Linked DNA regions of Homo sapiens. The protein of the gene in region 1 purifies or fractionates together with the protein of each later gene. This does not show direct contact. Each region holds a gene or a part of one and is shown in the gene's direction. Other genes may lie near its edges.

Region 1 (7,032 bases):
ATTACAATTTTAATATCATCTATTGTCCAGTTGGTATTCAAATTTCCCTGATTGTCTTATAAATCCAACTTTTATTTTCAGGGAAAAGGATACATAGACATAATCCTTTTAAAAAAAGATTTTTTTAAAATTTTTTGAGATAGGGTCACCCAAGGCTGGAGTGCAGTGACCCGATCTCAGCTCACTGCAAACTCTGCCTCCCAGGTTCAAGCAATTCTACTGCCTCAGACTCCCAAGTAGCTGGGATTATAGGTGTGTGCCACCATGCTTGGCTAATTTTTTGTATTTTTAGTAGAGATGGGGTTTCGCGATGTTGGCCAGGCCGGTCTCGAACTCCTGAGCTCAAGCGATCTGCCGGCCTAGGCCTCCCAAAGTGCTGGGATTACAGGCCTGAGCCACTGCCTCACCTGGCCTATAATTGTTTTCATATGTTACATATCTAACATTTAAATACTTTGTTTCAATTTGTTGTAGGCAATATGCTTAGAAATTTTAGTTTTATGAAGTTTATTATGGTATATTTTTCCCTGGTTTGAAACAGCAAAACTGTTTTAAACTCGTTAATTGGGTTGTTAACCTCCACTTTTATAAGAATATATATAATATAGGGATTATTTGGTCTATCTAAATTTGGATGGACCCTCCAGAGAAGTCAATAAAGTTTATTTTTTTTAGTAGAGTGATAAAATCTTATTTCCTAACATTTATTGGCAGAGCCATATTTTTAATTTCATTTTATATCACTTTTGAATTTGGGAATTACAAACTTTTAATCTATTAATGTATAAAGTGTTGTAATAAGGACCTCTGGGAGAATTTTTTTTTTGTCCTCGGGTCCTAGAAAACATGTTTTTTTCCTCCCTACTTATGTTTTAAAAATATTCTCCTCTTAGCGAGTAATAAAACCTTGTCTTCCAAAACTTGCCACTTGTGAGTTTAAGAACTTTCTTTGTAGATTACCAGTTAATGGGGTCTGTTAACTAATTGATACCCATCTTGACATTACTATTCAGTTCACTAAACTGGTCTCTGTTTACAGGGGGACGATTTGCATTGTGCTGGGTGTATAAAATTTTGTCTGTGGTACTATTATTTATAGATAGGATTTATCCTGTCTATTCTGTAGTTCCTGTCTTTTCTTTTGCAATGTTTTTAGTGATACATTTTAGTTGACAACAGGGCTTGCTTCAATGTTGGATAATTGTTTTGGTGAATCGGTTTGGATATTTCTATTTGCTTTGCTGAAATATATGCCCACACATGGAGTTCTAATCCCACTTCTGATGCAAAAATAATCACTATTTATCGAACAAATAACTATGTGCCAACCACTATGATAAGCACTTTGGAGATGATATCCAGGTTAGTCTTTAGGATAGCTCCTAAGGTAGTATTTTAAGTCCCATCCTTATTGTAGGAAACTCGGGCATGGAGCCTTTCAGAAATCTACTGAAAGTAACATAACTAGAAGCTGGCAGGATTGGTATTTGAACCTAGATCTGCATGACTTCCTTTTTTTTTTCTTTAGAAATGAGATCTTGCTTTGTCACCCAGACTGAAGTGCAGTGGCACGGTCATAGCTCACTGCCACTTCGAATTCCTAGGCTCAGATGATCCTCCTCCCTCAGCCTCCTGAGTAGCTGGGACTACAGGTGGGCGCCACCATGTCCGGCTAACTTTTCTTTTCTTTTTTTTTTTTTTTTTTTTTGAGACAGAGTCTCACTCTGTCACCCAGGCTGGAGTGCAGTGGCGTGATCTCAGCTCGCTGCAACCTCCGCCTCCCCGGTTCAAGCGATTGTCCTGCCTCAGCCTCCCGAGTAGCTGGGATTACAAGCATGTGCCACCACACCCAGCTAATTTTTGTATTTTTTAGTAGAGATGGGATTTTGCCATTTTGCCTGGGCTGCTCTCAAACTCCTAGGCTTAAGCAATCTTCCCAGCCTCCCAAAGTGCAGGATTACAGGCATGAGCCACCGCTCCCGGCCTTGTTTGACTTTTTTTTTTTTTTTTTTTTTTTTTGTGACAGAGTCTCGCTCTGTTGCCAGGCTGGAGTGCAGTGGCGTGATCTCAGCTCGCTGCAACCTCCGCCTCCCCGGTTCAAGCGATTCTCCTGCCTCAGCCTCCCGCGTAGCTGGGACTACAGGCGCCTGCCACCACGCCTGGCTAATTTTTTTTCATTTTTGTATTTTAGTAGAGACGGGATTTCACTATGTTGCCCAGTCTGGTCTCCAACTCCTGAGCTCAGGCAATCCGCCCACCTCAGCCTCCCAAAGTGCTGGGATTACAGGCGTGAGCCACCGCGCCCGGCCTTGACTTCTTAACTAGCTACTTACATTGTCCAGTAACTATATGAAGTTATTAATTCAAAAATTTATTTTGCCTGCATGATTTCTGTTAACTGTTTCAAGCAGGCTGCCTAAGGGTCTTTACCTTGCTTTGCGGTTTTTGCCGATGTGGGTGTTTCCTCTGGGTTCTTTCCTGTTTGTATGTCTTTCCTTTTCGGTTAATTCACATTTTGGGTGGGGGTGGGTAGATGGGAAGAGGACTAGTTGACTGTTTCGCAAGTTGAATAGAATACTGAAAAACGCAAGCATCAGAGAATATTTATTCTGAACCCATAAAAGTTATAACTCACCTCCTGGGATAAATAAGTGTTCACATTTTTCAGTTTTGCTCCTCTTTTAAAATATACTAAACAATCATAACAGACCTAAGGTTATTTTTTTCTCATCCCCAGTCTCATTTCCCTTTCCTAAGAAGCAGCTTCAATCATGATTTTGGTGTGTATCTTGTCCTTCCATGATTTTATAATTTCCTCTTGTATATGTTTGCATCCATATACAAAATGTAGTATTTTATGTGTTTTAGAATTTTTATTCAATGCTGTGTTTTGGAGATCTATTCATATTGCTACACAAGGACCTAGTTTATTCATTTTAACAGTTGAAAAGTATTTCATCATAGGATTTATACCACAGTTCAGTTACCTATTCCCCCCAGTAATGGATATATAGTATATTTCCAGGTTTTTGTTATACCAAATCGTGCTGCCAAGAATTTACGTGCAAGTGTTTCCTGGTGCTCATGGTTAGAGCTTTTCCAGGGTAGATCATTAGGAAGTGGAATTGTTGGTTTGAATTGTTACATAGCTTCAACTTTTCCAGATTCTGACGAATTAGTATAAAGGTGGCTGTGCCAATTTATACTTATATGTCTGAGTGTCCCAGTTTCCTCATTTTCTGGCCAATTAATGCTTGGTGTTATCAGACTTTTTTGGCTTATGCCAGTCGGAAGGCTTTGAAATAGTCATTATTTGAATTCAAAAAAAATTTTTTTCCTGGGCTGGGTGCAGTGGCTCATGGGTGTACTCCCAGTGCTTTGGGAGGCCAAGATGAGAGGATTGAGGACAGGAGTTCAAGACTAGCCTGGACAACATAGTGAGACCCCATCAAAAAATAAAAAAAAAATAAAAAAATAAAAAAATAAAAAACAAGTAAAATAAATAAAAAATAAAAATAATTATATAAAAAATATTAGCTGGGCGTGGTGGTGCATGCCCATAGTCCTAGCAGTGCTGGAGGCTGAGGCAGAAGGATTGTTTGATCCCAGGAATTTTGAGGTTACAGTGAGCTATGTTCATGCCAGTGCACACCAGCCTGGGCAACAGAGTGTGGCTCTGTCTCCAAAAAAATTTTTTTACAACAAATTTTAAAGTTTTTGTATTAAAGTTTTTATTTTATATATATCATATATAAACACACACACACATATACATATACATATACATATACATATACATATATATATACTTTTTTTTTTTTTGAGACAGGATCTTGTTCTGTCACCACTCTGGAGTGTGGTGGTGCAAATATGGCTCACTGCAGCCTCCACCTCCTGGATTCAAACGATCCTCCCATGTCAGCCTCCCAGTAGCTGGGACCAGGCTAGTGCCACCATACCTGGCTAATTTGTGTGTGTGTGTGTGTGTGTGTGTGTGTGTGTGTGTGTGTGTATAGAGACAGTGTCTCACTATTTTGCCCAGGCTGGTCTCGAGTGCCTGGGCTCAAGCATTCCTCTTGCCTCAGCCTCCCAAACTGCTGGGATTACAGGCATGAGCCACTAAGCCCAGCTCAGCATGATTTATTACTGTTAAATATTTAGACATTTGTATCCAAGCCTCCATTTATAACCTTGCTCTGGGCCCCACCAATTTTAGAGAAGGTCTACTCTGATTCCCTGAAATGTCTTCATTGTTTTCTTTTGCATGAATGTACACAATTTATATATTGATCTTCTTATTATTAAAATTGAGACTGGCCTCAGTAGCTAATATCTGTAATCCCAGTACTTCAAGAGGCCGAGGTGGGAGAATCTCTTGAAGTCAGGGGTTCGAGACCAGCCCGGGCAACATAGCTCCTACAAAAACATTAAAAAATAAAATTAGTTGGACACAGTGGCACACACCTGTGGTCCCAGTTACTCAGGAGGCTGAGGCGGGAGGATCACTTGAGCCTGGGAGGACAAGGCTGCGGTCAGGTGCAGTTGCGCCACTGCCCTCCAGCCTGGGCAATAGAATGAGACCCTGCCTCTGAAAAAACAAAGTAAAATTGATATTGTTTTAAGTATTTGCTATTAAACCATTATGCTTTGAACATTTTGGTATATGCTTCTTTGTGTACATGTACATGAGTTTCCCTAGAGATCTAGTAGTGGAATTTTGATTTTTTTTTTTTTTTATTGATCATTCTTGGGTGTTTCTCACAGAGGGGGATTTAGCAGGGTCATAGGACAATAGTGGAGGGAAGGTCAGCAGATAAACAAGTGAACAAATGTCTCTGGTTTTCCTAGGCAGAGGACCCTGCGGCCTTCCGCAGTGTTTGTGTCCCTGGGTACTTGAGATTAGGGAGTGGTGATGACTCTTAACGAGTCTGCTGCCTTCAAGCATCTGTTTAACAAAGCACATCTTGCACCGCCCTTAATCCATTTAACCCTGAGTGGACACAGCACATGTTTCAGAGAGCACAGGGTTGGGGGTAAGGTCATAGATCAACAGCATCCCAAGGCAGAAGAATTTTTCTTAGTACAGAACAAAATGAAGTCTCCCATGTCTACTTTCTACACAGACACAGTAACAATCCGATTTCTCTATCATTTCCCCACCTTTCCCCCTTTTCTATTCCACAAAACCGCCATCGTCATCATGGCCCGTTCTCAATGAGCTGTTGGGTACACCTCCCAGACGGGGTGGTGGCCGGGCTGAGGCGCTCCTCACATCCCAGACGGGGCGGCAGGGCAGAGGCGCTCCCCGCATCTCAGACGATGGGCGGCCTGGCAGAGACGCTCCTCACTTCCTAGACGGGATGGCGGCCGGGAAGAGGCGCTCCTCACTTCCCAGACTGGGCAGCCGAGCAGAGGGGCTGCTCACATCCCAGACGATGGGCGGCCAGGCAGAGACGCTCCTCACTTCCCAGACGGGGTGGCGGCAGGGCAGAGGCTGCGATCTCGGCACTTTGGGAGGCCAAGGCAGGCGGCTGGGAGGTGGAGGTTGTAGCTAGCCGAGATCACACCACTGCACTCCAGCCTGGGCAAGATTGAGCACTGAGTGAGCAAGACCCCGTCTGCCATCCCGGCACCTCGGGAGGCCGAGGCTGGCGGATCACTCGCGGTTAGGAGCTGGAGACCAGCCCGGCCAACACAGCGAAACCCCGTCTCCACCAAAAAAATACGAAAACCAGTCAGGCGTGGCGGCACGCGCCTGCAATCGCAGGCACTCGGCAGGCTGAGGCAGGAGAATCAGGCAGGGAGGTTGCAGTGAGCCGAGATGGCAGCAGTACAGTCCAGCCTCGGCTCCGCATCAGAGGGAGACGGTGGAAAGAGAGGGAGAGGGAGACCGTGGAAAGAGAGGGAGAGGGAGACCGTGGAAAGAGAGGGAGAGGGAGACCGTGGAAAGAGAGGGAGAGGGAGACCGTGGAAAGAGAGGGAGAGTGGAATTTTGATTCTTAAAGTTTTATGTGATAATGCCAAATTGTTTTCCGAAGTGTGTTTGCCAAGTTATACTCCCACCAGAAGAATAAGAGCCTTCCCTTGCCTCACATAGTGGCCAAGTGGTATCGTCAGCTTTTAAAAATTTGTGCCAATACAAGGAATGTGAAATTGTATCACTGTGGTTTTTTTTGTTTGTTTTTGTTTTTGTTTTTGTTTTTTTTTGAGACAGAGCCTCGGTCTGTCGCCCAGGCTGGAGTGCAGTGGTGCAATCTCGGTTCAGTGCAGTCTCCGCCTCCTGGGTTCACGCCATTCTGCCTCAGCCTCCTGAGTAGCTGGGACTAGAGGTGCATGCCACCACCCCTGGCTAATTTTTTTTTTTTGTATTTTGGGTAGAGACAGGGTTTCACCATGTTCGCTAGGGTGGTCTCGATCTCCTGACCTCGTGATCTGCCCACCTTGGCCTCCCAAAGTGCTGGGATTACAGGCGTGAGCCACCGCGCCCAGCCCTCATTGTGGTTTTAATTCTTTATATATTCTGGATCTCTAGCCCTTTTAAGTCTTATTACTCATTTTTTTAAGTTTGTCTTACTTGGCATCTTAGTAGTTGCTTCTTATTCGCATTTTACTTTTTTGGTCATCATAGCACTCTATTTTTGTTTGTAACAGTTTTTGTTTGTTTGTTTTTTACCATTTTAAAAATGGCTAAAACTATTTTTATTTATTTTTTGAGATAAAGTATTTATTTTTTGTTTGTTTTTTACCATTTTAAAAATGGCTAAAACTATTTATTTTATTTATTTACTTTTTTGAGGTTTATTTATTTATTTATTTATTTATTTTTTGTTCTGTCACCCAGGCTAGAGTGCAGTGGTGTGATCTCAGCTCACTGCAACCTCCGCCTCCTGGGTTCAAGCGATTCTCTTGCCTCAGCCTCCCAAGTAGCTGGGATTACAGGCACGCGCCACCATGCCTGGCTAATTTTTGTATTTTTAGTAGAGACAGGGTTTTGCCACATTGGCCAGGCTGCTCTTGAACTCCTGACCTCAG
Region 2 (6,618 bases), on another chromosome or scaffold:
GAGGCAGAGAATTGCTTGAACCTGGGAGGCGGGAGGTTGCAGTGAGCCTAGATCGCACCACTGCACTCCAGCCTGGGCAACAGAGTGAGACTCCATCGCAAAAAAAAAAAAAAAAAAACGAAAGCTGCTACAGCCTTCTCAGGCTTATTGTTTTCATGGTATGTATATTTTTCCATCCATTTCCTCTCTTATTTATGTCTAAATTATGGCTTTGATAGACAGTATGTAATTGGGGTTTGGATTTTTATCCATTTTGACAGTATCTGCCTTTTAATTAGCATGTCTATTAGCATTTTTCAAATGATGTTTTAAGCACTTAACACGTGCACTTTTTTTATATTTGAGACACAGTCTCACTCTCTTGCCCAGGTAAAGTGCAGTGGCACAATTATAGCTCACTGCAGCCTTGACTTCCTAGGCTCAAGCAATCCTCCCACCTCAGCCTCCCGAGTAGCTGGGACTATAGGCGTGCACAACTGTATCCAACTTCACATACACTTTCGAAAAGCTTTTTAGGGTAGAAGTTCCGCTTTCTTAGCTCATCTTCATAGAATTTGAATCTAAAAAAAAAACAACTGAAAAACATTTGTCTTTACCATATTATTATAATAAAAATGACACTTTGTGAAACAGCAGCTGTATTTTTAAAGTACTATCAGCTGATACACTTTTATTTTATGTTATTTTATTTTATTTTATTTTATTTTAGAGACCGAGTTTCACCCTTGTTGCCCAAGCTGGAGTGCAATGGTGTAATCTCGGCTCACTGCAACCTCTGCCTCCTGGGTTCAAGTGATTCTCCTGCCTCAGCCTCCACAGTAGCTGGGATTACAGGTGCCTGCCAGTACTCCTGGCTAACTTTTTGTATTTTTAGTAGAGATACGGTTTCACCATGTTGGCCAGGTTGGTCTCAAACTCCTGACCTCAGGTGATCCACCCACCTCAGCCTACCTAAGTGCTGGGATTACAGGCGTGAGCCATGGCACCCAGCCAGTACTGTTCTTTTGACACCTGGCTTTTCATAGTATAATTCTCTGTTCCTGAATTGTATTTTTTTTTTTTTTTTTTTTTGAGACAGAGTCTCACTCTGTTGCCCAGGCTGGAGTGCAGTGACATGATCTCAGTTCACTGCAGCCCCCACCTCTTGGGTTAAAGTGATTCTCCTGCCTCAGCCTCCCAAGTAGCTGGAACCGCAGGCATGCACCGCCACACTTGGCTAATTTTTGTATTTGTAGTAGAGACAGGGTTTTACCATTTTGACCAGGCTGGACTCGAACTCCTGGCCTCAAGTAATCCGCCTGCCTTGGCCTCCCAAAGTGCTGGGATTACAGGCATGAGCCACCGCATGCAGCCTTGTTCCTAAATTCTGTCTTCTGTCTCTTGTCTGTTTCAACATTTCAGAGTACTTATTTCATGACTCTTTCAGATTACATTACTATTTCAAGTCCCCCCTGTTCATTCTACCAGTGGATTCTCTCTGGATAGTAGAATTCGTTGTGTATTTTATAAGTCTTTTTTGATGAAAGCTCATTTCTGACTATAGTTATTTCCCAAGGGTTTCATGTGGCTTGGGCTGGGAAAGCTTCTCTTTGAAGTGACTTCCAAGTTGCCTCCACCCTGACTACAGGATTCATTGGCTTGGAAGCAGAGTTTTTAGGTTAATTTCTCAATGCAGCTCGCTGCTTTCAGGTCGTTTGGATGGTATGAGCTTAGACTCTATACTGTTAGGAGTTCAGAGGTTAGGTTCTGAAGGTTAACTGGTGCATTGACCTTTAGTAGTTGTATTGATATGTGGTTCAATTTGGGGCTGCCATTTTATCATTTGATTTCTGTTCGTTGTCTTTGTCTTTTGTTTGTTCCTCCTTTCTTACTTTCTTTTTAGAATTCCAGTTTCAGCTGGGCACGGTGGCTGACACCTATAATCTCAACACTTTGGGAGGCTGAGGCGGGCAGATCACCTGAGGTCAGGAGTTCGAGATCAGCCTGGCCAATATAGTGAAGCCCAGTCTCTACTAAAAATACCAAAAATTAGCCGGGCATAGTGGCGGGCACTATTAATGCCAGCTACTCCGGAGGCTGGGACAGGAGAATCACTTGAACCCAGGAGGCGGAGGTTGCAGTGAGCCGAGATCGTGCCATTGCACTCCAGCCTGGGCGACAGACCAAGACTCCGTCTCAAAAAAAAAAAAAAAAAAAAAAGGGGCCAGGCGCAGTGGCTCACGCCTGTAATCCCAGCACTTTGGGAGGCCGAGGCGGGTGGATCACGAGGTCAGGAGATCAAGACCATCCTGGCTAACAGGGTGAAACCCTGTCTCTACTAAAAATACAAAAAATTAGCCAGGCGTGGTGGCGGGCGCCTGTAGTCCCAGCTACTCGGGAGGCTGAAGCAGGAGAATGGCGTGAACCCGGGAGGCAGAGCAGAGCTGGCAGTGAGCCGAGATCACACCACTGCACTCCAGTCTGGGCGACAGAGCAAGACTCCATCTCAAAAAAAAAAAAAAGAAAAAAGAATTCCAGTTTCATTTATCTATTTTCTTTTTTACTTTGCCTCTGCATTCTTTTTTTAGTGGTTACTCTACAGATTGCGGTATAAATCCTTAAGATAGAGTTAATCTTGCCAGGCACAGTGGCTTATACTTGTGATCCTTGTAATCCTAGCACTTTGGGAGGTCGAGGCAGGGTCGAGGCAGGGTCGAGGCTTAAGCAAGCCCAGGAGTTTGAGACCAGCCTGGGCAACATAGCAAGACCCCCATCTGTACAAAAAAAAATAAAAAACTAGCTGGGCGTGGTGGCGAGCACCCTATTCCTAGCTACTTGGGAGGCTGAGGCAGGTGAGGCAGGAGGATTGCTTGAGCCCAGGAGTTCGAGGCTGCAATGAGCCATGATCCTACCACTGCACTCCAGCCTGGGCAACAGAGCAAGACCCTGTCTCAAGAAAAAAAAAAAAGACAGTTAATCTTGTACCATTTCCCATTAAATGTAAAAACTTTGCAACCACACAGAAGCATTTCTTTCCCCCTTCCTCTCCCTCATCCTTTAAGGCAGGGTTTCTCAACCTCGGCACTGCTGCCATTCTGTGTGGGGGGGCTATCCAAGCACTGCAGGATGTTGGGTAGCCCACCCACCAGACGCCAGTGACATAGCTCCTCCTCAGGTGACAGAAAATGTCTCCAGATATTACCAGATGTCCCCTGGGGGCAGAAGCACCACAGGTGTGAGAACTCTCACTCTGAGGTATAGGTGTCCTGGGTGTTTCATCTGCCCTTGTTTTATTTTTTATTCATTTATTTATTTATTTGAGACAGTTTTGCTCTTTTTTTGTTTTTGAGACAGAGTCTCGCTCTGTCACCCAGACTGGAGTGCAGTGGTGTGATCTCAGCTCACTGCAACCTCCGCCTCCCAGGTTCAAGCTATTCTCCTGCCTCAACCTCCTGAGTAGCTGGGATTACAGGCACCTGCCACCATGCCCGGCTAATTTTTTGTATTTTTTTTTTTTAAAGAAGGGGTTTCACGACGGTCACCAGGCTGGTCTTGATCTCCTGACCTCGTGATTCACCCACCTTGGCCTCCTAAAGTGCTGGGATTACAGGCATGAGCCACTGCGCCTGGCCCTAATTTTTGTATTTTTAGTAGAGATGAGGTTTCACCTTTTTGGCCTGGCTGGTCTCGAACTCCTGACTTCAGGTGATCCACCCACCTCGGCCTTACAGGCATGAGCCGCAGTGCCCGGCCAATGCTGAATGTTTTATATCCCATAGTGTATTTCATTCTCACAAGATCCCCCGGGTACTGTTCCTTCTCCCAGAGCAAGAAGCACAGTGGCTGAGGTCCAGAGAAACGGAGGTGCTTCATGCAAGGTCAACACAGGATTCCTAACCGGACAGCCTGGGCTCCAGCACTGCCTGCTGGCCACATCCACCACTGCCTCCAGGAATCAGGTCTAGGTCTTGAAGGCAGCTCTGGGGCCAGAGACTGAGCCATCTCTTTTTTTTCCAGGTGTACAAAAGAGCCAAGGCGCTGGACCAGTCTGACAACGATATGTCCGCCGTGTACCGAGCCTACATACACTAAGCTGTCGACACCCCGCCCTCACCCCTCCAATCCCCCCTCTGACCCCCTCTTCCTCACATGGGGTCGGGGGCCTGGGAGTTCATTCTGGACCAGCCCACCTATCTCCATTTCCTTTTATACAGACTTTGAGACTTGCCATCAGCACAGCACACAGCAGCACCCTTCCCCTGAGGCCGGTGGGGAGGGGACAAGTGTCAGCAGGATTGGCGTGTGGGAAAGCTCTTGAGCTGGGCACTGGCCCCCCGGACGAGGTGGCTGTGTGTTCACACACACACACACACACACACACACACACACACACAGGCTCTCGCCCCAGGATAGAAGCTGCCCAGAAACTGCTGCCTGGCTTTTTTTCTTCCGAGCTTGTCTTATCTCAAACCCCTTCCAGTCAAGGAACTAGAATCAGCAACGAGAGTTGGAAGCCTTCCCACAGCTTCCCCCAGAGCGAAGAGGCTGTAGTCATGTCCCCATCCCCCACTGGATTCCCTACAAGGAGAGGCCTTGGGCCCAGATGAGCCAGTACAGACTCCAGACAGAGGGGCCCTTGGGGCCCTCCAACCTCAGGTGATGAGCTGAGAAAGATGTTCACGTCTAAGCGTCCAGTGTGCACCCAGCGCTCCATAGACGCCTTTGTGAACTGAAAAGAGACTGGCAGAGTCCCGAGAAGATGGGGCCCTGGCTTTCCAGGGAGTGCAGCAAGCAGCCGGCCTGCAGGTGAGCATGGAGGCCCGGCCCTCACCGCCTCGAAGCCATGCCCCAGATGCCACTGCCACAGCGGGCGCTCGCTCCTCCCTAGGCTGTTTTAGTATTTGGATTTGCATTCCATCCCTTGGGAGGGAGTCCTCAGGGCCACTAGTGATGAGCCAAGAGGAGTGGGGGTTGGGGGCGCTCCTTTCTGTTTCCGTTAGGCCACAGACTCTTCACCTGGCTCTGAAGAGCCACTCTTACCTCGGTCCCCTCCCAGTGGTCCCACCTTCTCCACCCTGCCCTGCCAAGTCCCCTGCATGCCCACCGCTCTCCATCCTCCCTCCTCTCCCTCTTCCTCCCGTGGAGACAGTATTTCTTTCTGTCTGTCCCTTTGGCCCAGACCCAGCCTGACCAACGATGAGCATTTCTTAGGCTCAGCTCTTGATACGGAAACGAGTGTCTTCACTCCAGCCAGCATCATGGTCTTCGGTGCTTCCCGGGCCCGGGGTCTGTCGGGAGGGAAGAGAACTGGGCCTGACCTACCTGAACTGACTGGCCCTCCGAGGTGGGTCTGGGACATCCTAGAGGCCCTACATTTGTCCTTGGATAGGGGACCGGGGGGGGCTTGGAATGTTGCAAAAAAAAAAGTTACCCAAGGGATGTCAGTTTTTTATCCCTCTGCATGGGTTGGATTTTCCAAAATCATAATTTGCAGAAGGAAGGCCAGCATTTACGATGCAATATGTAATTATATATAGGGTGGCCACACTAGGGCGGGGTCCTTCCCCCCTCACAGCTTTGGCCCCTTTCAGAGATTAGAAACTGGGTTAGAGGATTGCAGAAGACGAGTGGGGGGAGGGCAGGGAAGATGCCTGTCGGGTTTTTAGCACAGTTCATTTCACTGGGATTTTGAAGCATTTCTGTCTGAACACAAAGCCTGTTCTAGTCCTGGCGGAACACACTGGGGGTGGGGGCGGGGGAAGATGCGGTAATGAAACCGGTTAGTCAATTTTGTCTTAATATTGTTGACAATTCTGTAAAGTTCCTTTTTATGAATATTTCTGTTTAAGCTATTTCACCTTTCTTTTGAAATCCTTCCCTTTTAAGGAGAAAATGTGACACTTGTGAAAAAGCTTGTAAGAAAGCCCCTCCCTTTTTTCTTTAAACCTTTAAATGACAAATCTAGGTAATTAAGGTTGTGAATTTTTATTTTTGCTTTGTTTTTAATGAACATTTGTCTTTCAGAATAGGATTGTGTGATAATGTTTAAATGGCAAAAACAAAACATGATTTTGTGCAATTAACAAAGCTACTGCAAGAAAAATAAAACACTTCTTGGTAACACAGCTGTGCCGCAGGAGTCCTGCTTCCCTCGTCCTCGGCGAGATGGGTGGGAGGAGAAGGCAGCGGCGGGGCCGGGGTGGGTTTTCGGGACCTCCGCGTCCGGGGTGAGACGGACTTGGGAGTGGCGGCGAGGTCCGCGGCAGGGTTGGAACCACGACCAATGGAGCCAAGCGGGCCAATAGGGAGGAGGAGCGGGGACAGACTGTCCTGCCGGCCAATGAGTGAGCGCGAGTGGAGCAGAGCGCCCTATCATATCCTGGGGGCGCCCCGGGAGCTCCGCCCCCAAGCGGGCGCCCCAGGCTGGTGCCGGCCGCGTCCCTGGCCAGCCGGAGCAAGCCTGACTCGTGCAGCCGCCGGCCGCGTCCCTGGCCAGGCGGAGCGAGCCTCACTCCCGCAGCCGCCAGTCTGGTTCCAGGGCTCCCGCAGGTTTCGGGGGCCGAGGCGGACCGACAGGCGCCAGCCAATCGCGAGCACGGAGCCGGCCTGGGGGCGGGGTGGTACCCGCTCCGCCAATCG
Region 3 (7,995 bases), on another chromosome or scaffold:
GGCCACCCGCTGGAAAACAGGAGCCAACTGACCCCGGAAATCAGCTCCCACCCGGCTGAAGGACAGCCCAAAGTACATGCACTGGCCCAGCAGAGAGTCCAGGTGGCCGCCTATGCCCCGGTAAAGGTCGGTCTCCAGCACCTGCAGGAATTGTGAGACCTTCTGTAGCACCCAGCCATGGAAGATGGCACTCTCATTCACAGTGTGCTCACCCATGGCAGGGGGCAGCAGTGGGTCCTCGTCTGAGAAGATGGCACGGTACTGGGTGATGATATCAAAGAGATGGACACGGGAGGCCTCGATGGTTTTTGTAATATGGAAATAGGGATCATCATTAGGAATGGCAGTCAGGATGGACCGGAGCCAAGCATCTCGGGCCTGAAGAAACTTCACCCTCAACTCAGCCTCAGTGAAGACGTCCATGCGCCGCAGGTAGCCAATGACACGGAGGCAGGCAGGAAGCTGGATGTTGGTCCTCAGTTGCTGGATCAGCTGGCTCAGCATCAGCTGCATGGACTGGCGCACTTCGTTCACGATGCCCTGACAATACACAGAGAGAGTCACACTGCGCTGGGAAGGATGCTCTCTAGAACCCATTCCCCTAACTCTGAAGACTGCAGACCAACATTCCCATGGCTTTCCTGAAATGTGAAGTAATTTCCTAAAGCTGATGCCTGTAGGTTCACCAACAAAGATCAGGTTAGTTAACTCTCTTGCTTAAAAAGCTTAAAACCTGGCCAGGTGCAGTGGCTCAAACCTGTAATCCCAGCACCGTGGGCAGGCAGGTCACTTGAGGTCAGGAGTTTGAGACCAATCTGGCCAACATGTGAAACCTCGTCTCTACTAAAAATATAAAAATCAGGTGGGTGTGGTGGTGCAGGCCTGTAATCCCGGTTACTCGGGAGGCAGAGGCAGGAGAATCACTTGAACCCGGGAGATAAAGGTTGCAGTGAGCCAAGGTCGCACCACTGCACTCCAGCCTGGGGGACAGAGCGAGACTCTGTCTCAAAAAAAAAAAAGAAAAAAAAAAAAGCTTAAAATCCTCCAGTGACTTCCCACTGCAATCAAGAAAATTCCAACCACTTGTTGGGACTTACACTGGTGGCCCTACCTGGCTCTCCATCTTCACCTGCTTCCTAGTGCTCTCCCGCTGCTACAATCCATTAACCCTGGCTGCCTCTGTATCCCTTAAACACCTCAATTTCTGCCCACTTCAGCCCTCTCTACTTGTTCTTCACACTTTCTGGTTTGCTCTCTCCCCAGATCTTTGTGGGCTGGCACCTCCTTCTCATTTAGGTCTCAGCTTAAATGTTACCTCCCTAGAAGAGTCCTTCTTGATCACCCTACCTAAAGAAACCTACCCTAGACTCCCTTACCCCATTCCCTGTTTTTTTCTTCAGACACCACTATCTGAAATGATATCATTTCTTTGTCAATTATCAGACTTCCCATTAGCACGTAAGCTGCATGAGAGCCAGGACCACTTTATTCACACTGTATCCCCAGCATATAGAGCAGTGCTTGGCACATGATTAATATGTATTTTGAATAAATGAATGTTTTCTGTTCAGGCATACCTGGCTGGCAGAAACTGATGTGAAACATGCAAGAGTTTCTACCTAAAGCTTCAGTCCTGACCACAGAATAAATGATTACAAGAACATTACTTTGAGTCCTCTCTGGGCAAGGTGGCTACCTGGATGACAGGGATGGAAGAGTATTTCCTCTCCAGTCGGCGTACGTAGGCTGCAAGCTCCAGGGCCTCTTCATAATAACTGTTCCGGACACAGGTGTCCATGAGCTGAGGAATCTCCAGTATTTCCAAAATTTCTGTGTGCCGGTTTAGGGTCAGGCTATTCATCCGGCGGTTGGAGCTGATCTCCTCGGCTTCCTTCACAAAGTTCCTAGTAATAATCAGAAGAATGTTGATCCTTCACTGCTCTGTACCCAAACCTTAGCTACAGTTACCAAGTACCTGCTATGAACATTGGGCTGGATGATCTATCTGATTTATTCCTCACACCCCACCTATAAGGTAAGTATTATTACAATTGAGGAAATTTTTAATCCCAGAGAGGTTAAGCAACTTGTCCAAAAACATACAATTAATAAATCTAACAGATGGAGATCCAGATATGCCACTTGCTGGCTGTGGCAAGGTACTTGGCCTCTCTGAACCTATTTCCTCATTAGTAAAACGGTATATAGGGCCAGGCGCAGTGGCTCACGCCTGTAATCCCAGCACTTTGGGAGGCTGAGGTGGGCGGATCACTTGAGGCCAGGAGTTCAAGTGAAACCCCATCTCTACTAAAAATACAAAAAATTAGCCAGGCATGGTGGTGCGCGCCTGTAGTCCCAGCTACTCAGGAGGCTGAGGCAGGAGAATCACTTGAACCCAGGAGGTGGAGGTTGCGGTGAGCAGAGATGGCGCCACTGCACTGCAGCCTGGCCAACAAAGCAAGACTCCGTCTCAAAAAAAAAAAAAAAAAAAGTATATAGGACCCTCCTCATAAGGGTGTAAGAACTAAATGAGATGATGTGTGTGAAGCATTTAACATAGAACTTGAAACAGAGCGAATGCGTCAAAGTAAAAATAGTAAAAGAGACACAGTTAAATATTTAACAGTAGCTATCATTATTTTCAAAATGAAGCACTAACTGCCTAGAATCCACAATCTTTCCCCTCAGGTCTTCATCTTCTCCTATGCTAATGTTCAACCATAGTTCCTGCCACAGTCTACTTTCAACACTTCTCCATATTTGCAGAGACCTGCTTTATCAAGTCCCCTATCTATTCTGGAGCATGGAAGGGTACAAAAGCTGCTGTCAAATATCCAAAGGCTCAAAAGAAAAATTAAACTTTAATCATGAAAGGCTGGAAGGCAGAACTAGGGATAATGGAGACAGAATATGACTCACAAAGGACTTTTTTTTTTTTTTTTGAGACGGAGTCTTGCTCTGTCACCAGGCTGGAGTGCAGTGGCACGCATCATCTTGGCTCACTGCAACCTCCGCTTCTCAGGTTCAAGTAATTCTCCTGCCTCAGCCTCCCGAGTAGCTGGGACTACAAGCGCGTGCCACCACGCCCAGCTAATTGTATTTTTAGTAGACATGGGGGTTTCAGCATGTTAGCCAGGATGGCCTCGATCTCTTGACCTCGTGATCCGCCTGCCTTGGCCTCTCAAAGTGCTGGGATTACAGGTGTGAGCCACCGCACCCAGCCTTTTTTTCTTTTTTTAAGAGAGTTTCACTTTGTCACCCAGTCTGGAATGCAGTGGCACAATCACAGCCCACCGCAGCCTCGACCTCCCAAACTGGAGTGCGGTGGCACAATCATGGCTCACTGCAGCCTCAATCTCCCGGGCCCAACTGACCCCCCCACCTCAACCTCCTGTGTACCTGGGACTACAGGCGCACGCCACCACGACCAGCTAATTTTTTATTTTATAGAGACAGGGTTTTGCCATGTTGGCCAGGCTGCTCTCGAACTCCTGGGTTCAAGCCTCAGGCTCCCAAAGTGCTGGGATTACAGGCTGAGCCACCACATCCAGCCATCCAAATGGAGAGACTTTTTGATATCTGATGCCCTCAAATGCGAGGATTTCCTTGTCACCTTCCCGTCAATGGAAGTTTTGAAGCAGATGACCTCCGGTCCACGCTTTCGTATAAAATAAGTATATAAATGTGCACATATATTCAGCTCACACCTATAATGTTAACTGTGTCAGACCCGATAATAAGAGCTTTGCATGAATCCTTTTTCTTTGTGCCCACAACTGCCCTTCGAGGGAGGGACGTGCTTCTGGGTAACCAGTTCTGAATTCGAAACCTCCTAGCTGTGTCCTTGGACGTCACTAATCTCTGTCTTGACTTGCTCATATGTAAAATGGAAATAACAGGGCTGGGCGCAGTGGATTATGCCTGTAATCCCAGCGCTTTGGGAGGCCGAGGCGGACAGATCACGACATCAAAAGATCGAGACCATCCCAGCCAACATGCTGAAACCCCGTCTCTACTAAAAATCCAAAAAAATTAGCTGGGCGTGGTGGCGCGCGCCTATGGTCCCTGCTACTCAGGAGGCTGAGGCAGGAGAATCGCTTGAACCCAGGAGGCAGAGGTAGGTTGCAGCGAGCCGAGATCTCGCCACTGCACTCCAGCCTGGCGACAGGGCGAGACTCCGTCTCAAAAAAGATAAAAAAGGAATAACAGTACCTATCTCGAAGGCTGTTGTGAGGTTTAAATGGATTAATAAAGCGCTCAGCAGAGAACCTGGAACGTGGTAAACGCTTTATGTGTTAGTTATTTCTACCATCGTAAATGTCAGCTTTTACAGTTATAAAACCCCTTTAGCGCCAGGCGCGTCGCACCTGCAGCTCTGCTGGAAGCTGGGCAAACGGTCGAGCAGGCGGCCGAGCGACGCCTCCACGTCGCCAAACAGGCGGTGGATGCGCTCGGTGCACTCGGCGCCGCGGATGAAGGTCTTGTAGTTAGCGAAGGCCAAGTCGCGCGTCTGCTGCAGCAGCTGCGCCCGCTCCTCCGCCAGGCGCTCGGGCTCGCGCCGCAGCCGCTCCAGCCCCGAGCCGCTCAACTCCCGGAGGTAGCGGCCCACATCGGGCCGCTCGCGCCACTGGGCCTCGGGGAAGCGGTCCCGGAACAGCGACGCCAGGAGCCCTTCATCCTCCACCTCGCCGAGAGCCGCTGCTGTGGCCGTGGCTACCGATGGGATAGTCGCCGCGGTCGCCATCTTCCCAGCAACAACGTCACTTCCCTTCCGGACCACAAGGGGCGCTGACTCCGAACTTAGGACAGGAAGAAACAGGCACATTTCCGGTCTCTATGCTTTCTCATCCGGCCGGCTTGCTTTCCCCTGCGGTCGTCCAGACTATTGGGCGCTAGCGAGACGAACTATTGGTACGGGGCTAGAGAGGAAGGCTTTGGGATTGCCGGGGAGCAGCGAGCGACCGACTTCCGTTTCCAGTTACCAAGGCACGAGGATCCGGTGTTCCAACCCAGGGGGAAAAATGCGGCCTTTGACTGAAGAGGAGACCCGTGTCATGTTTGAGAAGATAGCGAAATAGTAGGAGCGCGCGGGGCGGACGCGGGAGTGTGTGGGTGTGGTGGCCAAGGGTGGAGTGGGGGCGCGGTGCCGGAGACCGGTTCGTTCGGGCGCGGTCTCCAGTCCTCTTTTTGCCCTCAGCATTGGGGAGAATCTTCAACTGCTGGTGGACCGGCCCGATGGCACCTACTGTTTCCGTCTGCACAACGACCGGGTGTACTATGTGAGGTGAGGCGGGGCCGGGCAGGCAGCATGGACCCAGGGGAGAGGGGTCCTGGGTCCCACGAGCCTCCTTCATCCGCAACCTTGCTCCCCCTTTACCCTTTTAGTGAGAAGATTATGAAGCTGGCCGCCAATATTTCCGGGGACAAGCTGGTGTCGCTGGGGACCTGCTTTGGAAAATTCACTAAAACCCACAAGTTTCGGTTGCACGTCACAGCTCTGGATTACCTTGCACCTTATGCCAAGGTTTGTGGGGCGGTTTCCAATTCTGCCACGGGCGATGAAGTCAAGGATTAGGCAGATTGTCCGGCAGCTTCTCTCCCACAGAGTCCCTGACAGTGTGCTTGGAGGAGTTTCAGCACATGGAGATGTGTAGAGGTCTTGCAGCTTGAGCATGGTCAGGGCTATGGGATAGGAATGCTATGTGGCTGCGTAGGGTTAGTTTTCTCCAGCGAAGTAGAAGAGCCTAGGGAGACCCAGCTAGAGATCAGAAAGCAAATAAGTGGCAGCAATGAAGACACCGGGGTCCAGAAAAAGAGCTGTTAACCTGGCCATGGAGGATGATCCTTGTAGAGTTGAGAAAATAACTTTTTCTATTTTTTTCTTTTTCTTTCTTGCTCTGTTTTTTCTTTTCATTTCTCTTTCTCTTTCTTCCTGACACAGTTTCACTCTGTCGCCCAGGCTAGAGTGCAGTGGTGCGATCTCACTGCAGCCTCCACTTTCCAGTTTCCAGTGATTCTTGTGCCTCAGTAGCTGGGATTACAGGCATGTGCCACCACACCTGGCTGATTTTTTTGTGTGTTTTTAGTAGAGACAGTGTTTCACTGTGTTGGCCAGGCTGGTCTCGAACTCCTGGCCTCAAGTGATCCACCTGCCTTGGCCTCCCAAAGTGCTGGGATTACAAGCGTGAGCCACTGCACCGGGCAACTTCCTGCATTTCTGTTCAGGAGATAGACAGTTTGAGGAAAACATGAGTCTCTCTGTTTCCCTTAAAATTATTTCAGAAAATTATTCACAGATCCAGCAGCTAGCTTGTCTGCATGGATAGAAATAGTAACGTTTTTATGTCTCTTGGATTTTAATTCTCTTATAGTATAAAGTTTGGATAAAGCCTGGTGCAGAGCAGTCCTTCCTGTATGGGAACCATGTGTTGAAATCTGGTCTGGGTCGAATCACTGAAAATACTTCTCAGTACCAGGGCGTGGTGGTGTACTCCATGGCAGACATCCCTTTGGTGAGTAGAGATGGTAGCTGTTACAGAACTCAAGTACTCTTATTCAAGAAGGGTATGTCTTCAATCTGAGTGCTTGAGAGAATAAATTCTCAGCACGTTTTGAATCCCAGAAAGACCAGAACTGTATTTTTTCCGTCTTTGTTATTTCCAGCCCTCAATATGGGCATATTGAATGACTTCAGTGAGTTAGTGTCTCTTCTTTTGAATCCCAGGGTTTTGGGGTGGCAGCCAAATCTACACAAGACTGCAGAAAAGTAGACCCCATGGCGATTGTGGTATTTCATCAAGCAGACATTGGGGAATATGTGCGGCATGAAGAGACGTTGACTTAAAACGAAGCCATTCCAAGGACAGACGGCTGTATGGAAAGGCCGAGCTTTGTTTCCTGTGTTTGTGTGGACTCCACCATCATGTTGAATTTTGTCAACACTCTGGCCTCTTCAGGGACTTCTTATTTACTGTACTCTCTATCACTGACAAATGCAGGCTGGATTCTTATTATATACAGAGATGGCTCAAAAATGGGGTTTCAGATCTTTGTGACGAAATAGAATACTGTTTCATATTTGAATCAGAGGGCTTCTTGTTCTGAGAAATAGGTTCAAAATCATTGGAACCAGGAACAAGAATAGCTTATTGTTATCTGTGATAACACTGTTTTCTAAACACAAGGATTTTCTTTTTTATTAATATGCAACATAGACATTGCCATAACAGAATAATAAACCACATGTGGGGTTTTAAAAATGAAATTTGGCTAATAGGAGCAATTCAGCTATTTTTCTATACAGTAATTGGTGTGTGGTATAGAAGAAAAACGGGTTCAAACCCCACTTCTGCCACCTACCAGCTATATGGCCTTGAATGAGTCATTCAGCTTTAATAAGGTTCATTTTCTTCTGTTTAAAAAGACACAAAACTTGAAAATCAGCTTTGGCCATCTACCTGAGAATTAGAAAGTCTGATTTTTGGAATTAGAAATCATGATTGTAGGCTGGGCACAGTGGCTCGCGCCTGTAATCCCAGCACTTTGGGAGGCCAAGGCGGACGGATCACTTGAGGTTAGGAGTTTGAGACCAGCCTGGCCAACATGGTGAAACCCCATCTCTACTAAAAAAAAAAAAAAAATTAGGTGTGGTGACACATGGCTGTGGTCCTAGTTACTTGGGAGGCTGAGGCAGGAGAATGGCTTGAACTGGGGAAGCAGAGCTTGCAGTGAGCCAAGATGGTGCCATTGCACTCCAGCCTGGGCGTGACAGAGTGAGACTCCATCTGATTGTAAAGCATCTAGTACAGTGTACAGTGCCTTGGAAATGATAGGTATGGAATAAATGGTAATTATTTTTATATTATATATATTATGTATTCCTGTTATTAAGTGTAGAGTTTTATGAGTATAATTTGATTTTATTACCTTCTTTTTTACAAGCTGTTTTCTCAGTATTTTTCTTGGATGGGATGACGCTAGGCTGGAAAGTTTTTT
Region 4 (6,897 bases), on another chromosome or scaffold:
TCCCACTTCAGCCACTGGCAATGGAGGCTTCTGCATGGGTCCCTTGGAAACTGGGACACATTCCTTATAGGGTTTCTTGATCTTGATTACTTTTTTTTTTCCCCCACACAGGGTCTTGCTTTGTCACTCAGGCTGAGTATACTGGCATTGGAACAGGAATTAAAAGAAATTAAAAACTGTGTAAGCAAAAACTCGGTTGTATGTAAAAAAACCCAATTTCCCTTGAGGAAGAGAAAGGGCTGGAGTCCTTTAAAATTAACTGCCTGTTTTTCTTTCTGAGGCTAGTGAGCCTTATCTCTCCCTTTCCCAGGCATTGTGAAGACTCTGTTTCTCTAGCTGTGCAGCTGCAAGGTCACTAGACAGATACTCTCAAGTCGTAAAACGTGTTGTTCCTTGAAAAGTAAGATATAATGTAATGCCATGTCTCAATTGAATAACTGTCTTTGTTTCTCGCTTCTGTAATATGCTTCCCACTGCACAAATCTCCCCCTGCCCCACGAAATGTTTAAAAGGTAGCTTGACTCTTTGTTCAGGGCTCAGTCCTTTGGATGTTAATCTGACTGGGTTTGTGCACCTAAATAATTAAATAATTCCTCCTCAACCCCTCGGTCCCTTTGGTTTCTTAATTATCCCGCAGCAGCATGAACATGGCTCACTGCAGCCTTGACCTCTTGGGCTCAAGCAATCCTCCCACTTCAGCCCCCTAAGTAGCTGGGACTAAGGGCGCATGCCACCAAGCCTGGTTAATTTTTGCATTTTTTGTAGAGACGGGGTTTCACCATGTCGCCTGGGCTGATCTTGAACTCCTGAGCTCAAGCGATCCACCCGCCTGGGCCTCCCAAAGTGCTGGAATTACAGGTGTGAGCCACTGCACCCAGTTAAAGTCACAGATCTCCAAGTCAGGTCTGAGCTCTGTAACATTAGCTGTATGACTCTGGCAAATTAATCTTCCTGCATCTGTTTTTTCATCTTTGAAATAAGAATAACATTAAAATAGTTTATTCTTACTATTTTTTAAAATTAGAATATTGAGAAGAAGGAAAAAAAATACCTATGTTTCCACTACTATAATGGAAACTTTGCCATCATTTTGCTTTTGGTTGACATCTCCCCCTCCCCCATTTTTAAAAATTAAAATTGACTCTCTTTCTTTCCTTCTTTCTTTTTCTTTTTTTAAAGATGATGTCTTGCTATGTTGTCCATGCTGGACTCACACTCCAGAGCCCAAGCGATCCTCCCTCTTCAGCCTCCTGGATAGCTGGGACTACAGGGATGTGCCACCACACCTGGCTTAAACCAATTTCTTTTTAATTCATAATTTTTAAATCAAAACAATTTACTCAACTCTTTATTTTGAAAAGTTTTAAACCTCAAAAAAGTTGAAAGAATAGTACAATGAACACTCACGTACCCTTACTCTAGCACCAATAATTCACCAATTATTAACATTTTGACTGTGTCCCCCTCTGCCATAATATACTTTTCTTTTTTTCTGAAACCAGCTGATTGATTAGGGTGGTGGTTGCTGAAAGGTGAGGTGCTGTGGCAATTTCTTAAAATAACACAACAATGAAGTTTGCTGCATGGATTGACTCTTCCTTTCATGAAAGATTTCTCAGTAGCATGTGATGCTAATTGGTAGCATTTTATCCACAGTAGAATGTTCAAAATTGTAGTCAATCCTCTCAAACCCTGCCACTGCTTTATCAACTAAGTTTACGAAATATTCTAAATCCTTCATTGTCATTTCAACAGTGTTCCCAGCATCTTCACCAGGAGTAGATTGTATCTCAAGAAACCACTTTCTTTGGTCATACATTAGAAGGAACTGTTCATCCATTCAAGTTTCTCACGAGATTGCCACAATTCAGTCATATCTTCAGGCTCCGCTTGTAATTTTAGTTTTCTTGCTATTTCCAACCACATCTGCAGTTACCTCCTTCACTGAAGTCTTGAACCTCTCAAAGTCATCAATGAGAACTGGAGTCAACTTCTTCCGAACTCTTGTTAATTTTGATATTTTGACATCTTCCCATGAATCACAAATGTTCTTAATGATATCTAAAATAGTGAACCCTTTCCAGAAGGTTTTCAATATACTTTGCCCAGATCCATCAGAGGAATAACTCTCTATGGCAGCCATAGCCTTACGAAATGTATCTTAAGTAATAAAACTTGAAATGCAAAATTACTTCTTGATCCATGGGCTGAAGAATGGATCTTGTGTTCACAGACATGAAAACAACATTCATCTCCTTATACATCTCCATTAGAGCTCTCGTGTGACTATGCACATTTTCAATGAGCAATAATACTTTGAGAGAAATCCTTTTTTCTGAGCAGTAGGCCTCAACAGTGGGCTTAAAATATTCAGTAAACCATGCTATGAACAGTTGTGCTGTCATCCAGGCTTTGTTGTTCTACTTACAGAGCACAGGCAGATTATATTTAGCGTAATTCTTAAGAGACCTAAGATTTTTATAATAGAATGGTAAACAAGCACTGGCTTCAATCCAAAGTCACTAGCTGCATTAGCCTCTAACAAAAGAGTGAGCTTGGCCTTTGAGGCCAGACATTGACCTCTCTAGCTATGAAAGTCCTTGATGGCGTCTTCTTCCAATAGAAGGCTGTTTTGTCTACATTGACTACTTGCTGTTCAGTGGCCACCTTCATCAACGATCTTACCTAGATCTTGGGGATAACTTGCTGCAGCTTCTCCATCAGCATTTGCTGCCTCATCTTACACTTTCATGTTCTGGAGACGGCTTCTTTCCTTAAACCTCATGAAATAATCTCTTCTAGCTTCAAACTTCTATAGCTTCCTCACCTCTCTCAGTCATCATAGAATAGAAGAGAATCAGGGCCTTGCTTTGGATTCGGTTTTGGGTTTAGGGGATGCTGTAGCCGGTTTTATTTTCTATCCAAACCACTAAAATTTTCTCCAAATCAGCAATAAACTGTTTCGCTTTCATATCATTCATGTGTTCATTAGAGTAAAATGTTTAATTTCCTTCAGTAACTTTTCCTTTGCATTCACAAACTGGCTAACTTTTTGGTGCAAACTTTCAGCCTAGCTTTCAGCCTATCTTGCCTTTTGACATCCCTTCCTCACTAAGCTTAACCATTTCTAGCTTTTGAGTTAAAGTGAGAGATGTGCGACTCTTTCTTTCACTTGAACACTTAGAGGCCCATTGTAGGGTTATTAATTGACCTAATTTCAACACTGTTGTGTCTCAGGGAATAGAGACCCAAGGAAAGGGAGAGAGAAGGAAGAACGGCCTGTCAGTGGATTAGTCTGAACACACACAACATTTATCAATTACGTTTGTATCTTATATGGGCACAGCTCATGGCGCCCCAAAACAATTACAATACAAGGAACACTCATCACACGTCACCCTTGTAGCAGAGCACATCTCCCTATGATCTAGGTACGAGCATTGTACCTAGGATGGACGCGTTCGTCCTCTTACCTTCGGGAACGCCCTACTCTGTCTACGGAGTAAAGTACTTAATAAACTTGCTTTTGCTTTGCTATGCGGACTCACCCTGAATTCTTTCCTGTGCAAGATCCAAGAACCCTCTCTTGGGGTCTGGATCGAGACCCCTTTCCGGTAACGAAACTACACTAAGAATACAAGAAAACTTACGTTACTGTGCGGGAGCTGACAAAGTCTCTCGCCGGAGGGAGCACACAGAATTTCACCTTCTCCGGCCTTTTCCCAAGCTGGCAGGAGTAAAGCTGTAAGAGGAGGTGCCAGCGCCCCAAGCCAGCTCTCCCGCCGGCACTGCTGCGGTCCGCGAGGCAGCCAATCAGGTAGCTGAGTTTGCCATAGGGGCGGGACTTCCTCCCCAGCGCGCACGAGTACGTGCGTGGAGGTCCCGCCCCGGAACTGCAGTTGCTGCTGCAGCTGAGGTACAGCGGCGGTTTCTGAGGTTCTTCACTCGCGACTGACGGAGCTGCGGTGGCGTCTCCACACGGTGAGTACCAAAACGAGCGGGGTTGGAGCCGACTCTGGAGAGGGGCTGAGGCCAGGAACCCGGGTTCCTATCGCGGGTCGCTCTGGGCCGGTGGGTTCCCGGGTCCAGAGAGGGCGGCCGCCGGCCCAAGCCGTCCAACCGAGCTGCGTGCCACGGTCCCCGCGCCTTGGGCTCCTTGTCCGGTCATCAGAGCCTGACGGCCTTGGCTTCTCGGCTTCTCGGTTTCTCGGTTTCGTGCGCGCGTTCGTGCCTGAGACAAAGCGAGAGGGCCGCGCGGGACCGGCGTCACGAGGAGACAGAGGCCCTTCTACTCTGCCTGGCGCTCTCCGTGTCCTCGCCCGGTTCGCGTGGCACCCCTCGCCCTCTCCTTGTTGAACCCCGCGTGTTTCTTTGTGTTTTTTTTTGTTTGTTTTTTGTTTTTTTGCCGTGGCGCAGCGGGTCCGGCGGGCACTGTGTGCGAACGTGCTCTCCTCGCCGGGCGCCATGCTCAGCGGTTTTTTTTGACGTGCGTCACTTTTTCGTAGTGGCGTATAAGGATTCTGTGGGACAGATGTCCTCGTTTTTCCCATTGTGCAGACTGGGAAATAAGAGACTCAGAGATTAATACGTCCACCGCAGAGCCACAGCTGACAAGTGGTGGATCTGGATTTGAACCAAAGTTTACCTTGGTCTTTTTCACGGAATCTGTTATCTTTCTTGGCCTTTCTGAAAAGGAAAAACCTGGATCGAGTTCCACCCAAACGAGTTGGGCCTAAATGGCCATTAAGCCACTTAAAATATGATGAAGAAACTGGATGGGTTTTAAGACGCTTGGCAAAGGAAAGGATGGTGGAGCAGGCATTTGCTCTCTCAGGCAAGGCTTGAGAAGGAAGCAAGCGCAGTACGCTTTTAATAAAGCTCACCCCTCCTGCCCCCACAAGAAAAACCCCTGAGATTCTTACTCTGCCTTCAGAACGACTTAGGTGTGGCAGGTTTCATCCTCCGTGCTTTACATAATTTTCTTTATTTACATAAAATGTACAACTTAGATATTGTTAGGTACCCTCCCCCCTTTTTATAGATGAGAGCACTGAAGTTCAGAGAGGAGTGGGTGGCACTATCCAAGGTCACACAGGCAGTAAGTGTTGGATTTGGAATTCAAACCAGGTCTAGCTCATATGTCTTTGTTCCATCACATGTGTACCCTGTGTTCCAGGCAAAGCTGTCTGTTCTGTGGTATTCTTTGTTCTTCTCTAGGTGGGAGCAACTGTGTGATAGCCATCTTTGTATCCTCAGTTCTTTGTAGGGCCTAGTTGCTTAGAAAATATTTGTTACATCAGAACCCTCTGCTTCTCAGACACCAACCTAATAGAACATGTATCTCCTTTTCAGCAACCATGAAGTTGAAGGACACAAAATCAAGGCCAAAGCAGTCAAGCTGTGGCAAATTTCAGACAAAGGGAATCAAAGTTGTGGGAAAATGGAAGGAAGTGAAGATTGACCCAAATATGTTTGCAGATGGACAGATGGATGACTTGGTGTGCTTTGAGGAATTGACAGATTACCAGTTGGTCTCCCCTGCCAAGAATCCCTCCAGTCTCTTCTCAAAGGAAGCACCCAAGAGAAAGGCACAAGCTGTTTCAGAAGAAGAGGAGGAGGAGGAGGGAAAGTCTAGCTCACCAAAGAAAAAGATCAAGTTGAAGAAAAGTAAAAATGTAGCAACTGAAGGAACCAGTACCCAGAAAGAATTTGAAGTGAAAGATCCTGAGCTGGAGGCCCAGGGAGATGACATGGTTTGTGATGATCCGGAGGCTGGGGAGATGACATCAGAAAACCTGGTCCAAACTGCTCCAAAAAAGAAGAAAAATAAAGGGAAAAAAGGGTTGGAGCCTTCTCAGAGCACTGCTGCCAAGGTGCCCAAAAAAGCGAAGACATGGATTCCTGAAGTTCATGATCAGAAAGCAGATGTGTCAGCTTGGAAGGACCTGTTTGTTCCCAGGCCGGTTCTCCGAGCACTCAGCTTTCTAGGCTTCTCTGCACCCACACCAATCCAAGCCCTGACCTTGGCACCTGCCATCCGTGACAAACTGGACATCCTTGGGGCTGCTGAGACAGGTAAGGGCAACTCTGGCCAAAGCAGGATTGCTTCTGGATTGAGCCCATAGCTGCTAATAGGCCAGATAATTGGGAGAGAGAAGAATGTTGAAGAACATAACCACAAAAGCAACGCTGAATAAAGGTGTTTAGAAGTCAGCCCCTCTGGTTTGAAATATGCTCTTCTTGAATGGTATCCTAGCCAGATCACTTTTATCTCTCTCAGCTCTGTAGACCCCATTATCAACCAAATGGAGATAACAGTTTCTACCTCTTGCATTGCTGTGAGGGTTAAATGCCACAGTAAACTAAAGCTTACACTGTACATTGGAAGTGGTCTGCAAATCGTAGTTTCTGCTGTTCTTGAGCCTTTTCTAAATAGCTCAAAGGGGTAAGGCAAGGCTAAGATCAGCCCTTTGGAGAGGTAGATCTTCATGAGTATAGGGAAGAACTGTCTAATTCTCAGGAGTTGTGCAAAGGTGAAAAGGGTTGCTGCTTTGGGAGTTGATGAGTTTCTTGTCATTGGAAGGATTTGAGTGTGGTGGGTAGTCATTGGGTGGATTTTGTAAACAGATTCAGCTATGAAGTGTTAGGACTATGCTGTGTTTGAGGTTCCTGCGAGACTTTTGGAAGCAATGACAGGTTGACTTTGCTGGATAGACTAGACTGCTGACTTGGGGGAGGAACTAGTACTGCCTGGAACTATTGGTCTGTTTAGACCAGCAGTGTCCATTAGAAATACATATAGTCATCTCTTGATATCCATGGAGGATTGGTTCCAGGACCTCCCTTGGATACCAAAATCCAGGGATGCTCAAGTCTCTGATATAAAATGGTGTAGTG

Evidence for each region.
Region 2: the proteins of ZC3HAV1 (region 1) and GLYR1 purify together in Homo sapiens (affinity purification with mass spectrometry; 2 studies listed by BioGRID and IntAct, with this or other methods). This does not show direct contact.
Region 3: the proteins of ZC3HAV1 (region 1) and NIP7 purify together in Homo sapiens (affinity purification with mass spectrometry; 2 studies listed by BioGRID and IntAct, with this or other methods). This does not show direct contact.
Region 4: the proteins of ZC3HAV1 (region 1) and DDX24 purify together in Homo sapiens (affinity purification with mass spectrometry; 3 studies listed by BioGRID and IntAct, with this or other methods). This does not show direct contact.

The regions. Positions count from the first base shown.
Region 1 is NC_000007.14:139,099,709-139,106,740, reverse strand, and holds part of ZC3HAV1 (zinc finger CCCH-type antiviral protein 1), read left to right. Parts: intron 1-7,032.
Region 2 is NC_000016.10:4,802,689-4,809,306, reverse strand, and holds the end of GLYR1 (cytokine-like nuclear factor N-PAC), read left to right. Parts: intron 1-3,996; coding exon 3,997-4,071; 3' UTR 4,072-6,104; downstream 6,105-6,618. UniProt on the Homo sapiens protein: Cytokine-like nuclear factor with chromatin gene reader activity involved in chromatin modification and regulation of gene expression. Acts as a nucleosome-destabilizing factor that is recruited to genes during transcriptional activation.
Region 3 is NC_000016.10:69,334,809-69,342,803, forward strand, and holds the start of NIP7 (60S ribosome subunit biogenesis protein NIP7 homolog), read left to right. Parts: upstream 1-4,963; 5' UTR 4,964-5,021; coding exon 5,022-5,077; intron 5,078-5,197; coding exon 5,198-5,284; intron 5,285-5,385; coding exon 5,386-5,524; intron 5,525-6,371; coding exon 6,372-6,512; intron 6,513-6,724; coding exon 6,725-6,844; 3' UTR 6,845-7,995. Other genes in the region: COG8 (conserved oligomeric Golgi complex subunit 8), read right to left, coding at 1-540, 1,697-1,904, 4,368-4,744.
Region 4 is NC_000014.9:94,078,203-94,085,099, reverse strand, and holds the start of DDX24 (ATP-dependent RNA helicase DDX24), read left to right. Parts: upstream 1-3,897; 5' UTR 3,898-3,981; intron 3,982-5,352; 5' UTR 5,353-5,357; coding exon 5,358-6,075; intron 6,076-6,897. UniProt on the Homo sapiens protein: ATP-dependent RNA helicase that plays a role in various aspects of RNA metabolism including pre-mRNA splicing and is thereby involved in different biological processes such as cell cycle regulation or innate immunity.